Regions from separate parts of the Homo sapiens genome. Here regions 2 and 3 are each reported to be linked to region 1. The links are microRNA targets in miRTarBase. Many come from high-throughput screens and were not tested one by one. Region 1 holds a microRNA gene; each other region holds the end of a gene's coding sequence.

What was found. The annotated mature microRNA hsa-miR-3605-5p reads UGAGGAUGGAUAGCAAGGAAGCC and lies in region 1 at 1,941-1,963, opposite strand. An mRNA with a match to its seed (bases 2 to 7 or 8) in the 3' UTR can be bound and repressed. Matches are read on the target gene's strand: a 7mer-m8 pairs with bases 2 to 8, a 7mer-A1 pairs with bases 2 to 7 and ends in A, and an 8mer does both.
Region 2: miRTarBase lists GRAP2 as a target of hsa-miR-3605-5p. Seed matches in the 3' UTR shown: 7mer-A1 at 2,559-2,565.
Region 3: the mRNA of COL1A1 is a reported target of hsa-miR-3605-5p. Seed matches in the 3' UTR shown: 7mer-m8 at 2,120-2,126.

What each region holds. Positions count from the first base shown.
Region 1 is chr1:33,330,509-33,335,508 of GRCh38, forward strand. It overlaps MIR3605 (microRNA 3605), which reads right to left and starts at 1,984; the gene lies at 1,885-1,984. It overlaps PHC2 (polyhomeotic homolog 2), which reads right to left. Exons shown (of 15, transcript NM_001385109.1): 10 at 3,582-3,784; 11 at 1,767-1,896; 12 at 840-954. RefSeq lists an enhancer at 1-76.
Region 2 is chr22:39,970,270-39,975,269 of GRCh38, reverse strand. GRAP2 (GRB2 related adaptor protein 2) reads right to left here. Exons shown (of 8, transcript NM_004810.4): 8 at 1,549-4,365. The coding sequence ends at 4,186. Among named protein-coding and RNA genes, the nearest start is that of TMA7B, 12 kb to the right of the region's middle.
Region 3 is chr17:50,181,421-50,186,420 of GRCh38, reverse strand. It overlaps COL1A1 (collagen type I alpha 1 chain), which reads left to right. Exons shown (of 51, transcript NM_000088.4): 49 at 1-104; 50 at 401-643; 51 at 773-2,320. The coding sequence ends at 919. Among named protein-coding and RNA genes, the nearest start is that of COL1A1, 18 kb to the left of the region's middle. RefSeq lists enhancers at 1,038-2,028, 3,604-4,499, 4,959-5,000.

The sequences.
Region 1 (5,000 bases):
CACACCTGACTTATTCCACTATAAATGTTACCCTGTGACGGGAAACTACTGTCCACTGTCCTGCTGGGGAGTGGCCTGGCTGCTCCAACAGCCTGAGGGGAATGAGGGCTGAAGATAGCTGAACTCTAGCTTGGCATGCAGAACACCTCTGTCTGGGACCTAGAGATTTCTTCTCTTCTGGGATTTCAGGGCTTCAAGGTCAGCTGTTGCTTCCATTGTGGTACAAAGACCACACATGGCTTTAGAATTGGACAAGCCTAAATCCCCAGGCCCATGGCTTATTAGCTATGTTATCTGAGGCACTACTACTCCTTTGTACTTTGGCTTCCTAACCTGTATAAAGGGGACAATAGTAATACCTGTCTTGGGAGTTATTTTGAAGATGAGATAATCGTATCAATTGACTGGCACAGTGACTAGCACACAGCAGGTTCTCAGGAAATGGCAGTGGTTTTTATGATGACCATTAGTGATCTATGCTGGGCGAGAGCTCACCAAGGGAACACTATAGCTGTGGTTCTGGGTAAGGCTTACCCTAACAAGGCAGGGGCTGTCAATGCTAGGAAAGGCGAATGGGTGCCAGTGGAGCCCAGGAGGGCCAGCCGAGCCAAAGCACTGCGGCTTTTCCTTGGACTCCCGCTGCTCTCTCCCACCTGCTCTTAGGGGTTCTGGCTTCTCGTGCTTGTTGAATTAGGGATGCCATCCTGCTTCCAGGTGGGTCGAGGAACTAGGAAACTGGAGAAGCCACCCCTATGGACCTCCTGGGGTAGACTATTAATGGCAGGAGGTGGGACATAAAGTGCAGTCCTGGGGAAATGGAGGGGGCTGGGGCCACTCACCTCTTTGCACAAGCCATGGAACAGAAGCGCTTGGAACGCTTGAACTTATAGGCAAAGTCCACCCGGCCACAGAGCTCACACTTGAGTTTGAGGGGAGCACCCTCCTCTTTGGATTCTGAAAAGTATAGAAATGGGTAGGGTGGAGAATGAGAAATTCCTGCAGGACTGTGGCCAGCCCCACCACGGGGCCTCCCTACTCCATCCTGCCTGGTCCTCCTGCTCCCACAGCTGTGACATACAGCAGCATTCTAGCATGGAAAATGCCAGTGGTTCTCACCCCTGGAATGCACTCAAGGGTGTCTGGGGATGCCCCTTGTAGACTTGACATTTTTTTCTTCCACGTGGTCTGAGTCTGAGGCAAAACACAGGTGGGGAAGAATCAGCATCAAATGACTGTGGAAGAAAGCAGGAGCCCCCAGGAAATACTCTGGATGCTGTCACAGCTGCTCCGCTGGCATCATCACACCTTGATCTATGCAGCTGGCTGCTGACCCAGTAAAAGACCTCAGGAGCCCACGCTCCTGCAGCTGTGCAGCTCTGTCAGTGCTTCATGTGGAAAGAGCAGCCTTGCCTGGTCTCTGCTGTGACCTAGAGCTGGCCCCAGTCTCAAGGCAGGGACGAAGGGCAGGACTTGCCTGGGGCCACTCCTACAGTCATGCCTAAAACTTGCCAATGATTCCCACAGGAAAAGCCATTCTTGGGATCCTGTGGTTGGCTGGAGGGGGATTGGGGGAGCAGAGGACACATGGTTCCCGTGATTTCCCCTATCCCTCTTTTTGAGGGAAGGAGGCTGAGGAGGTGCTGGGGGAAATGTTTACAGACTCGCTGGCTCAGGGTTCCTCTGGGGAAACAGAGAGAGGAAGTGTGTGAGGCCTGCCTTTCCAGCCACGCTGGGAGGCCGAGAGATTCAGGGTCTGAGATGCCCACCTTGCAGATAGGGCTCCTCCATCTCCGAGTCAGTGGTGGTGGTGTGATCCTGCTGTGGAAGTTTCTCAGGCAGGAACCCCTGTGCATACTTCTTCTTGAGATTCCCCACCAGCAGGGACGAGCGTCCCACCTAGAGGACAGGTAACACGGAGGCCGTGAGGGTCAGGTGGGAGCGGCTTCCTTGCTATCCATCCTCATCACAATTACACGTATAAAGTATCCAGGCACAGAGGCCAGCCCTCCTCAAACCTTCCCCCATGTCATCATCCAAGTGTGCTGGGCTCAAGGCCCTATTTTGCTGGTTGGCTCACGAGGTAAGATGCTAATGGGCAAAGTACAGGGATGGCTTCTGTCCAGGACCAACGGATGGCTCAGGAGATTAGGAAAATGTCTATTCCAGTAAGAGTCTAAGGGCTGAGATCAGGTTTCCCACAGTGCCAGATCAAGCACCAAGACCCAGTACCCACGCATCTCCAGGCAAGGACAGAGCGGAGTCTGTGTGAGGCTGTACATACGAGAGAGAGACTCAGCACCCATTTTCTGATTTTTTTACTGTTCTCCACCTTACCCCAATGCCTGACCCAAGCCAGAGGTACAGGCCGCCACAGAGTATAGCAGGAAAAAACAGACCCTGGGCCACAGAGCCAATGAACTCTCAGTTGTCAGAACCCCAGAGCAGCTTATTTACGCGTTTAGATCTCCTTTTGTGGCCTGTGTTTAGGCAGCCTGGTAGCCAGTCACGTGGCACCGACTCTAGGGCAATGCTGGGGGTGCTATGCAATCTGCCTCCACCCCATGAGATCAGGTGGTTTCTAGTGTTACTCTAGGAGGCCCAGTCTAACAGGGAAGGGATGTAACAGAGCGAGAGCCACTTCTAGCTAAGGTGTTCCAGGCAGATTTCTTTGCCACTGGCCTTGGACAACCTCCAGTGGGAAAGAAGACAAGAAGCTATGTGTCTTTTGGCATTTTACAGGAGCAGTTCACCCATCTCAGTTAATCAAGCTCCGCGTCTTCTGCAGACTAATCAAACCACTCATGGAACCAAAGAATGAGGAAAAGGCAGATGGTATCCCAGAAAGGTGTCTTCTCCAACAGCCAGATACTTTTCATCAGAACAGAGGCTGGTGTGCCGCTGGCTCTGGGCTCCTCCACACCCACAGGGCAGCACCACTGTCTCCAGTGCACACTGCACAGAAGCAGCTCTGGGTGCTTTGGTCAATAACCCATCTTCGTGGCTCGTGGATATTTCTTGTTAGTCTTAGGCTTCCATCGTGACCTTTCTGAGTGCCCCTCAATCTCATTAACTCCCCTTTCAAGGCTCTGTCCCCAGAAAACAAGCTTCAGGTTGTGACCCTGTTTCCTCACATTCATTTCTGATACACGTATCTGGAGAATTCTGTTCTGTGCAATTCCTTTTGTTCCTAACTGGCCGAAGTTTTGCCATTCAGAGGTTTTGGCATTCAAAACTCAATGAAATCTAATTTCCCAAAACCCATCATCTCTCACCAAATATCCCACAGTGAACTCCCTTTTAACCAAGGGTTCACACATCAACAGGCAGGGACACACCTGAGTTTGTGTGGGAAACTTCTAACCAAGGGTCTTGTCAATTATTCCTGATCACTGACCCCCCTCTTCTGGACCTTGGAAAGATAATCCTAGAAAGAAATGGCTCTATATTCTTTGGGGGAGGAAGTTAGCAAGGAAAGAGCAAATTGTTCACATTTTCAGAAATTTTACATGGAAATGTAAAAATATTCTAAGACACATCCAAAATATACTTAAAAAAAAAAGGGGAAAAGAAGTAGTCCGTACCGGGAAAGGCTCCGCCCCCTCCTGGATCACAAACCCTTCGATAACATGCGTCAGGATTTGGGGTTTCACAATGGCCTGTGGTGGTTTATTCTCACCATTCTGGGGGGCAGTGCCGGCGATGCTGGAGGCAGAGTTTCCGTTCCCTGAGGTCATGCCGGGGCTGCTGAGGTCGGTCAGTGCATGAACAATGCCCTGCCCTGTCTCTGCACGAGAGAGAGTAGGAAAACAAAGCAGGGGAGATCAGAACCAGAGTCCACGCCCAGGGAGGGACAGCAAGGACTCAAACTGCGCCCGGCTTTTACCGTGGGGCCAAGCGACAATGCAAACCAAGCAGTCCCCTCCCCTCAGTGACCCATTTAAAAGTGGCACAGTTTCAATGGACACATCACCAAGTATGAGTATAGTCAGTTCCACAACAACGCATGCAGCTAATCAGCTAGCAGTGTTTCTTCATTTCCCAACCGTGCTATGAACAGTTAACCCGGATAAACAGACGGGAATTCTATCTTTGAGGAGTTAAGACCTTGGTCGATACTGATTTGAACAAATAAGGTTAATACTCAGTTTGAGGGAGAAAAGTATTCAAGGTGACATCTAAAACCAGGACAAGAAGCTGAGCTAGGTATAGGGCTTTGAGTGTGATAAAGAGAAGCTTCTACGAGGTTCCTTAGAGGAGGGATTTTAAGAGCCCTGTGAAATGTCAAAACACTGAACCCCAGAAATTGATGCCAAGGGAATGTGGGTGCTGAACCCCAAGTAAAGGCTATCATGTATATTTGACTATTCAGAGACTGGTCATCTGGGGTCAGTGCATTGAAATATGCAGAAATTCCATTTCTCTGCTAAGAAGGCTGCTAGGCAGAGGCTGAGATTTTCTCTGCTGTTTCTGCTGAGCTGAGTGCTCTCAAAATCAGTCCTCATGCCCAGATGTCAGCTTCTTATCTAATCTGATCCTCACCAAATCATAGATCCTCTGTCTCTCTGTGGACAACCTTTCCTAATTCTCCTTCCCCATGGGCCTGCTAGCCTTCCTCTAAAAGACCTAACAGAGTGCTCCAGAAAGTGAGATTACATGCCTATACACAACCACACGACAGTGAACTTCCTCTCTTCCACTTCAAACAGCATCTCTCATGAGCTGTCTCATTGTCTTAGACGTGCAAGACTTCATCTCCTCACTTCTGTAACTCTCTCCCGCCCCCTTCCCAGGGCTGTTCTCTACCACCATCAACTGCCCCGTGAGCTGAGGCTGCCTTTAACCTGGAACTTCCTAAAAAAGAAAAGAAAAAGCCATTTCTTTATTGCAACAAGTCCATTAATATAAAGCATACCCCAGTGAGGTATGAGTGATATATACTTTAAAAGTGATTTCAGCACACTTGTTAAGTAATCTTTGCATAAAACTTTATATGAAGATGC
Region 2 (5,000 bases), not on the chromosome of region 1:
TGGGAGAATCACTTGAACTTGGGAGGCAGAGGCTGCAGTGAGCTGAGACTGTGCCACTGCACTCCAGCCTGGGCAACAGAGCCAGACCCCATCTCAAAACAAAAACAAAAACAAAAACAAAAACAAAAACAAAAAACAAAAAACAGAAAACAAAAAACCAACCCAGACCTGGAGATGAACAAGAGTTAGCAGGGTTAGCAGGGGATGTGCCTCCAGGTAGCAAGAATGGCAAGTGTGAAAGGTTTGGGGACAAATCCTTGGCCATTTGGAGGCTGAAAGGCCAGTGGGGCAGGAGCATAAAAGCAAGGGGCAGGGGAGGCAGAAGAGGAGGCTGAGGAGGGAGGCAGGGGCCGGACTTCACAGGGCCACATTAGGACTTTGGACTTAAGCCTAAATCCAGTGGGAAGGGGAGTGATGTGATCGGATTTATTTTTACAAAGATCGCTTTGGCATCTGTGTGGAGGACCAGATTACGGGAGAGAATGCAGGGAGAAAGGTATGAAAGCTGACAGTTGCCAAAGGAAGAGATGATGGTGGCATGGCCAAGGTGATGGAGTAAAGTGGAGGAACTGAGGAGGCATTTTTTAAAAAGCATTGAGACAATCAAGGTTTTTCTCACACACTTGCCTTGGTATAGAGGGGCTAAAATGTTGGCTTAGACAAGGCAAACAGTAAATATTTTGGCCATGCTAATCTGTCCCGAGTGTGGGCTGTTGTGTTTTAGGTTAGCTGGGAGCACAGTCCCCTGCCTCAACCAGGGCCACATCTGACCAGAGTCAATTTTATGACTGAAGATTTCCTGACAAAGCTTTTACAACTTCTGCAATCTCTGCTGATGTTTAAAATAATTACTATTAGGAAATAGTAATTATTATAGGAAATTCCTGTTTGCATTTCATCTGAATTCCTCTCACATTACATTTTTTTAATTCTAGAGATAAGGATGCTAAAATAATAAGTCACCTGGGTAGCCAAATATGAATGACGTCATAATGACCGTTCTGAATTGCATCTGTCCCAAAGCCAAAGTGACCTATTCGTTAGCAGCGAAGAAAAAATGGCCGAATATCCTCAGAAGAAGAGCCCAATTAGAGTTGTGCTCACTGCTAAGTTCTTTGCCTTTGCTCCTTAACATGTGGACCTAGCAACAGCACCCAGTAGCTTGTTAGAAATTCAGGACCAAGTTGGAAGCTGCATTTCAACACGGTCCCCAGGCAATTCGTAGGCACTTTAAATTTTGAGAAGCACCATGGTTAGATCACCCTAGGGCCATCTAAAAGTGGGTGGGCAGTGGCAGGTGCCAGATATTTGAAATGCGGTGAGGCACAGCAAGTGGTTAGGAAAACCCAACAACTGGTCCAACAGGACCTGGCTTTTCTCTGGAAGCTTCAAGTTCCCAAGTCACATAGAGTGTTGCAGCCAAACTCGGGGACAATGTGTTTGTTGGCTGCTGGTTCTGTGGCTGGTGAGAGGAGCTGGCTCAACCCTCCTCTGGTGCTGAAATGCTGTCAGGTAGAAACTAGGGCCCGTGGGGACACATGCGGAGGGGCTCCCCCTGGCAGCACCAGAGGCTGAGGGGGGTTGAGCTCTCTTTCCCCCTCCCCTCCATAATGTGGACAGTTTGGTTCTTGTCCTCTTTACCTGGCCGCTAAGAGCCCTCATTCCTTGTAGGTGGTTTGGGTGACTTTCCCGCTTCCTTCTGAATGGAGGCTGATGAGCAAGGGAAAGATGCTTTGGCATCTCAGTACAAAATACTCTTCAGTAGCTTTTGCTACAACAGAACACCGAGCTCCAGGGGTTCTGAAAGCTCTGCTCATACCGCCTGCCTACGGGGTCAGCTCCTGCAGGCCGATGACCCCTGTCACCCCCTGGTCTCGTTCTCACTCTCTACCTGAGGGGTATGCAACGCAGACACCAGACACGGCCTGGCCAAACAAGGACACTTTGTTTTATTACTGCTTTCCTGAGAAGCCTTTCAAGGCACAAAGTCTCCACCAGAATCGAATCACATACCTCCGTCTAACTAGAGCTGGTCCTCCCACATCATCAGACAACTGGATGGAGTTTGTGGGCTGTTTAAAGCATATGGTTTGTAAATACTGTAAAATCAAACATTACTTATGGCTTTTATTTACTGCAGCATTTCACATTACCTAGCACCAAAATAGCTGAGGAGGTCTTCTCTGCCTTTGTTCTTTCTCCTGTTCTTTTCCTTATGCTTCTTTGCTCCCTGCCTTCCGCAGCAGCGGTTTCTCTGCTCTGATTCTTCCTCTCCCCACTGCCCAGCCCTCCTCCTGCACCATCTGCCCACCAACTCCACACCGTTCTCTTCCCTGGCCCCACTCACCCTCTCCCTTTCCTCCCCCTGTGCCTCTCACGCTGCCCCTTGATCCTCCTGGATGTCTTAGCTACCTTTCCCTCTCTCTGCTTTCACTTCCAAAAGCTGCAGGTGCTCCTTACTCACACTCGACTCCCTCCTGCCTCCACCAGGCTATTTTCTTTTCCCTCCCAATACCCACCACAGAGTTCCTTTTTTCCTCTTTCCTCTAAAGGAAACATGAGGATCAGAGAACTGTAGAATCACAGTCACAAGGGACACTGCTTGTGCTACACTGGCAGTCACTTCTGAGTCAGAAAATCTTTCTTCTCCGATCACCTTCAATAACGGCTGCCCCCAACCCCATCCCTCCTTAGAGCAAGAGAGGTTGGGGAAGAGAAAACTTCCAGGCTCCCTCACCAACACTTTCACCCCCTTTCCTGTCTCAGCACACACACAGACACACAGATGCATGCACGCACATGTCCACACATGCAGGAATGCACACATATGCATACACAAGCACACATGTATACACACAGGAGTGCACAAATATGTGCGTGCAAGCACACATGTGCACACCTGCAGGGGTACACACCCATACCCACAAACTCCGAGTGCACTTGGTGCAGAACGGGTTTGCACCCGGCCTCCCCTAAGGCCCTGAGCTTCCTCTCTACTGTCTCCTTCGCCCCTGGCCAGGCTGACCTGTGCTGTGCACCTCCAGAGTGAGCCCTTGGACACATGATTCTAGCGTGATGGGATGGAGAGCGACAGCCATGGTGGGGTTCCTTGCTCCAGGTGCAACTCTTGGGCAGCAGGAGGACAGCAGTGGTCAGACTGAACAGGAAGCTGGTGTCAAAGCCAGCTTCCACCTGGGGTCATGTTTAGTCAATCAATTCATAGTCAGGCTCCTATCATCAAGTGGGCTTCTTTCCATGCCACTGGGCAAGGCATCTTCAAAAGAGAAAATCAAGAGGGAAAATGAACAGAGCCCTGAAGACATACCCTTGTAACCATAAAACAATGACTGTAAAATTCAGCATTCTCAGCTAGAGCTTCTTCAAGCACTTTACGGAATGTAGGATGCTATTTCCTTCATAGCTGGGGAAACAGAGGTTCCACTGAGTAAGCTGCTTGGGGATTGTGGAAAATCCCTCGATTTCCCAGTACTTCGCTCCTCACATTGAAACATTCATTTGAAAGACCCAAGGAATATTAATTTGAACAGAGATGAATGTCTCAGCTAGGTGTTGACTAGGAGGCCAGCCTTGCACAGGCAGGGTCTCTCCAACCCCGTCCTGCCTTCACATCCCCGCTCAGACTCGCTTGGCTGCCCGCAGCACTGGGCTGCACCTTAATTCCTAATGCAACAGTGCCCACCCCTTGGAGAACAGGAGGAGAGCTGCTCTGCAAGCCCTCCAGGTGAGCGGGGCTTGCAGGTCAGCTAGAACGTGCCCCACCAAGTTCAACCCCACCCTGTTGTTCTGTGTCCAGTGCCGAGGTGTGGTCTCTGCTTAGCTGTTCTCCGTGAAAATTCCCAAGACAAGGAGGAAGCAGTGACAGCTGAAGGCCAGGACAAAACTCCATTTCATTTCCCTGCCCCCCTCCCAACTCCCCCACTGCCTTCCACACACCCCTGAGGGGGGCAGAAAAGCAAGTGTCAATATTATTCTCCACCTGAGTTCCCTTTTGCATCAACTAATTACCAGCCCAATTGCCAATAAATTACTAGTATAAAAAGTTGTGTGTGTACACAGGCAGATGTAGATAGATGTATGTATATATAGTCATGGAGTCCAGCCTTTTTTCCTTGCCCTCTTTCTTGTGGGCAGCTCCAGACAAAAAGCTTCTGTCCCCTGAAGAGTTTATCGGGTCATGGGTGCCACGTAGTTGGCAGGGAAGAGGCCCAGCTTGTTGTGCAGGCGGCCGGTCCACCAGGATGGGTTGGAGCTATCCAGGACCTCCACCACCTCCCCGCTGTGGAACCCCAGCTCGTCATCCTCCAGGGCCTCAAAGTCATACAGCGCCCGGGCCCACCGCACTCGCTGTTGGGGGAAGCACAGAAGAGGCTCTGCTGAGCTGTGGGCTGGGCAGGCAGGGGAGGGTCTGCTGGCTCCTCCCACCACATCCAAGTCTTTGAGAGCAACATTCCCTGAAGGCTGACCCCTCTGCAGCTTAAAAAAACTTTTTTTGTAGAGATGGGGTCTTGCTATGTTGCTCAGGCTGGTTTTGAACCCTTGGCCTCAAGAAGTCCTCCTGCCTTGGCCTCCCAAGTAGCTGGAACTACAGGTGTGAGCCACCATGCCCGGCTACCCTGCTGCAATTTAAATCAGATACCTATGCACAGGCCTGAGCAAGAAGTTCCCAGAACGCACCAGCGTCACTCTGGAGACCCAGGACTTTTACCAACAGATGTTATTGTCCAAAGCCCCAATAGACTCCCTGAGAACCACTCTCTCCACATCAATAGGTGGTATTTTTATCTTGAGTGACAAACAGAAGGGCAACATGCCCCAAACAACAGCCCTTGGTGTTAGGGCAATCAAGTCACAAGTCAAGATGGATCACAGGCCAGGCACGGTGGCTCATGCCTGTAATCCCAGCACTGTGGGAGGCTGAGGTAGGAGGATTGCTTGAGCCCAGGAGTTCCAGACCAGCCTGGGCAATATAGCAAGAGCTT
Region 3 (5,000 bases), not on the chromosome of region 1:
ACCCCACTCAGCCCAGTGTGGCCCAGAAGAACTGGTACATCAGCAAGAACCCCAAGGACAAGAGGCATGTCTGGTTCGGCGAGAGCATGACCGATGGATTCCAGGTGCGTGAGCTGGACCTCAGAGCCAGTGTTAGGAGATGGGCTAGCCCAGTGCTCAGAAGGGACATGAAGTCCTGGAGTAGGTCTCTGCTAAGGGTGATGGACAGAGCTGGGCTGGGAGGCAGGGGTCTCAGGTCCCTGATAGTGGTTCAGACACAGGCTGCCGATGGGCAGGTGGTGCCTCCTCTCGATATAACGGTGCATTGGGCAGCTCTCTGAGGACCCTGGACAGGGAGGCCAGGCAGGACTAGAGGTTCCCGCATAGCGGCTCACTCTTCCCTCTCTCCCCTCCCCTGCAGTTCGAGTATGGCGGCCAGGGCTCCGACCCTGCCGATGTGGCCATCCAGCTGACCTTCCTGCGCCTGATGTCCACCGAGGCCTCCCAGAACATCACCTACCACTGCAAGAACAGCGTGGCCTACATGGACCAGCAGACTGGCAACCTCAAGAAGGCCCTGCTCCTCCAGGGCTCCAACGAGATCGAGATCCGCGCCGAGGGCAACAGCCGCTTCACCTACAGCGTCACTGTCGATGGCTGCACGGTGAGTGCCCAGAATCCCCAGGCAGGGCCCCACCTCTCCGGCCTTGGGCTTTTTGGCCAGGCCATAGTGCCCTCTCTCCATCACTCCCACGTGGTAATGCCCCCTCCCGTTGTCTCCGCCCCACCCCAGAGTCACACCGGAGCCTGGGGCAAGACAGTGATTGAATACAAAACCACCAAGACCTCCCGCCTGCCCATCATCGATGTGGCCCCCTTGGACGTTGGTGCCCCAGACCAGGAATTCGGCTTCGACGTTGGCCCTGTCTGCTTCCTGTAAACTCCCTCCATCCCAACCTGGCTCCCTCCCACCCAACCAACTTTCCCCCCAACCCGGAAACAGACAAGCAACCCAAACTGAACCCCCTCAAAAGCCAAAAAATGGGAGACAATTTCACATGGACTTTGGAAAATATTTTTTTCCTTTGCATTCATCTCTCAAACTTAGTTTTTATCTTTGACCAACCGAACATGACCAAAAACCAAAAGTGCATTCAACCTTACCAAAAAAAAAAAAAAAAAAAGAATAAATAAATAACTTTTTAAAAAAGGAAGCTTGGTCCACTTGCTTGAAGACCCATGCGGGGGTAAGTCCCTTTCTGCCCGTTGGGCTTATGAAACCCCAATGCTGCCCTTTCTGCTCCTTTCTCCACACCCCCCTTGGGGCCTCCCCTCCACTCCTTCCCAAATCTGTCTCCCCAGAAGACACAGGAAACAATGTATTGTCTGCCCAGCAATCAAAGGCAATGCTCAAACACCCAAGTGGCCCCCACCCTCAGCCCGCTCCTGCCCGCCCAGCACCCCCAGGCCCTGGGGGACCTGGGGTTCTCAGACTGCCAAAGAAGCCTTGCCATCTGGCGCTCCCATGGCTCTTGCAACATCTCCCCTTCGTTTTTGAGGGGGTCATGCCGGGGGAGCCACCAGCCCCTCACTGGGTTCGGAGGAGAGTCAGGAAGGGCCACGACAAAGCAGAAACATCGGATTTGGGGAACGCGTGTCAATCCCTTGTGCCGCAGGGCTGGGCGGGAGAGACTGTTCTGTTCCTTGTGTAACTGTGTTGCTGAAAGACTACCTCGTTCTTGTCTTGATGTGTCACCGGGGCAACTGCCTGGGGGCGGGGATGGGGGCAGGGTGGAAGCGGCTCCCCATTTTATACCAAAGGTGCTACATCTATGTGATGGGTGGGGTGGGGAGGGAATCACTGGTGCTATAGAAATTGAGATGCCCCCCCAGGCCAGCAAATGTTCCTTTTTGTTCAAAGTCTATTTTTATTCCTTGATATTTTTCTTTTTTTTTTTTTTTTTTTGTGGATGGGGACTTGTGAATTTTTCTAAAGGTGCTATTTAACATGGGAGGAGAGCGTGTGCGGCTCCAGCCCAGCCCGCTGCTCACTTTCCACCCTCTCTCCACCTGCCTCTGGCTTCTCAGGCCTCTGCTCTCCGACCTCTCTCCTCTGAAACCCTCCTCCACAGCTGCAGCCCATCCTCCCGGCTCCCTCCTAGTCTGTCCTGCGTCCTCTGTCCCCGGGTTTCAGAGACAACTTCCCAAAGCACAAAGCAGTTTTTCCCCCTAGGGGTGGGAGGAAGCAAAAGACTCTGTACCTATTTTGTATGTGTATAATAATTTGAGATGTTTTTAATTATTTTGATTGCTGGAATAAAGCATGTGGAAATGACCCAAACATAATCCGCAGTGGCCTCCTAATTTCCTTCTTTGGAGTTGGGGGAGGGGTAGACATGGGGAAGGGGCTTTGGGGTGATGGGCTTGCCTTCCATTCCTGCCCTTTCCCTCCCCACTATTCTCTTCTAGATCCCTCCATAACCCCACTCCCCTTTCTCTCACCCTTCTTATACCGCAAACCTTTCTACTTCCTCTTTCATTTTCTATTCTTGCAATTTCCTTGCACCTTTTCCAAATCCTCTTCTCCCCTGCAATACCATACAGGCAATCCACGTGCACAACACACACACACACTCTTCACATCTGGGGTTGTCCAAACCTCATACCCACTCCCCTTCAAGCCCATCCACTCTCCACCCCCTGGATGCCCTGCACTTGGTGGCGGTGGGATGCTCATGGATACTGGGAGGGTGAGGGGAGTGGAACCCGTGAGGAGGACCTGGGGGCCTCTCCTTGAACTGACATGAAGGGTCATCTGGCCTCTGCTCCCTTCTCACCCACGCTGACCTCCTGCCGAAGGAGCAACGCAACAGGAGAGGGGTCTGCTGAGCCTGGCGAGGGTCTGGGAGGGACCAGGAGGAAGGCGTGCTCCCTGCTCGCTGTCCTGGCCCTGGGGGAGTGAGGGAGACAGACACCTGGGAGAGCTGTGGGGAAGGCACTCGCACCGTGCTCTTGGGAAGGAAGGAGACCTGGCCCTGCTCACCACGGACTGGGTGCCTCGACCTCCTGAATCCCCAGAACACAACCCCCCTGGGCTGGGGTGGTCTGGGGAACCATCGTGCCCCCGCCTCCCGCCTACTCCTTTTTAAGCTTTTTCTTTCTTTCTTTCTTTTTTTTCTTAAATTCTTGCTTCCTCTTCCCCCCTCTTCTCCGTCCCTTCTCTTTCCCTTCACCTTCTGCCTGCTCCTTCCCAGAGGCCCTGAGAAGGCGAGGCCCGGAGGGAAGGTGACTGTTCGGCTCCCCCATCTCAGGTAAGGGGGACAGCGAGTGTGGTCAGCGGGGGACAGAGAATCCAGGGCGTCAGAAGTCCAGAGAGAACCAGGCACCCGGAGCCAGGGAGACAGCGAGACGACAGCTGGTCACCTCTCTCACCTCATCTCAGGTCTAAACCCAAAAAGAACAAAAAGCCCGCACTCCTCCCTAAGGTCTCCAGAGAGATGGACAAGTCTGTAGATACCATCCATCAGCAATACTAATATCGTGATGTCATTAAGTATTCATGGCCGTTCATTATGGCCTTCAATAATTCATCATTAGCACTTCTACCACACTTAGGACAGTGTAGAAAGGGAATCAGTGTAGAGAGGATAAGAATGATGGCATATAAATGAAGGCTTATTCATATGCAAATTACCCAAAGTTGTGTGATGCCTATCCATCTCTCTTTCTCTCTTTTTTTTGAGACAGAGTCTCACTCTGTCACCCAGGCTGGAGTGCGGTGGCGCAGTCTCAGCTCACTGCAACCTCCGCCTCCCAGGTTCAAGCAATTCTCATGCCTCAGCCTCCCAAGTAACTGGGATGACAGCCATGCACTACCACGCCCAGCTAATTTTTATATTTTTAGTAGAGTCAGGGTTTTACCATGTTAGCCAGCCTGGTCTCGAACTCCTGGCCTCAAGTGATCCACCTGCCTCAGCCTCTCAAAGTGCTGGGATTGCGGACATGAGCCACAGCACCAGGCTCCATCTCTTGATCAATGTGTTGATTGCTTGGTGATGCCTGCCATGCTGCCCAGGAAACCCTGTCCACTTGGACCTCTGGGACTTTAGGACCCTGGCTGTCCAGGCCACATCCCCATCTGCCCTCGTGGGGGACCCAGGGACATCCTGAGCCTGGCATCCAAGGCTCTACCTGGCCACTACCCACCTGCCCAGGCTCACTGTCCCCTCCCCTGCCCACATCTGTCACACCAACCAAAAAGGGTGGCCAACAGTTCTCACAAATGCACTGCATTTCCCCACTTCCAGGCCTTCTAGATGTCCTTTCTCTCTGCATGCTCAACACCCTACTGTCCGGGCCATGCTCAAATGTCTCATTCTCTTCCCATTCCCTTGCCCAACCCAGCCTGAGCTCAGCCCCTCTGAGTTTCCAAAGCTCTCCAGATCCACATAGCTCCCCTCGGTCCTTCATCCTAGGATTGTGGATGTGGTCATGTTTCCATCCTGTTATTCTCTCCAGACTAGAGGCCAGGTGTTGCAATGCAGGGCTAGGCAGAGTCTGTGCTTAGGTACTGGGGAGACTAAAGAGAGAGAGACTGAGCTAGAGAGGCCACCCATTAGGTGAGAGCATGGCGCTGTGTGTGCTTGGTGCACAGGAGTGAGCGAGTGTGAGAGGAAGAGCAAGTGGAAGGCCCATGGGGGAGCAGACAGCAACGGAGGGCGCAGGGCAGGGCTTTCTGCAGCAACAGACATGTCCTAGAGCTGCACCGCCCAGTGCGGTAGCCGCTAACCACATGCAGCTGTTGAGCATGTGAGATGCAGTTAGTGTGACTGAGGAATGCAGTTTCCACTTTTACTGAATTGCAATTAGTTTTACTAACTATATGTGGGATAAGGGTTACCATACGGGGCAGCAGAGCTGTAGGCAAAGGAGTGAATATGCCTCTTGTCACCTCTGTACAAATCTACATGTGGGTACGTGGGTGTGTGTGCACACGCGTGGGCATGTATGTGGACACACGC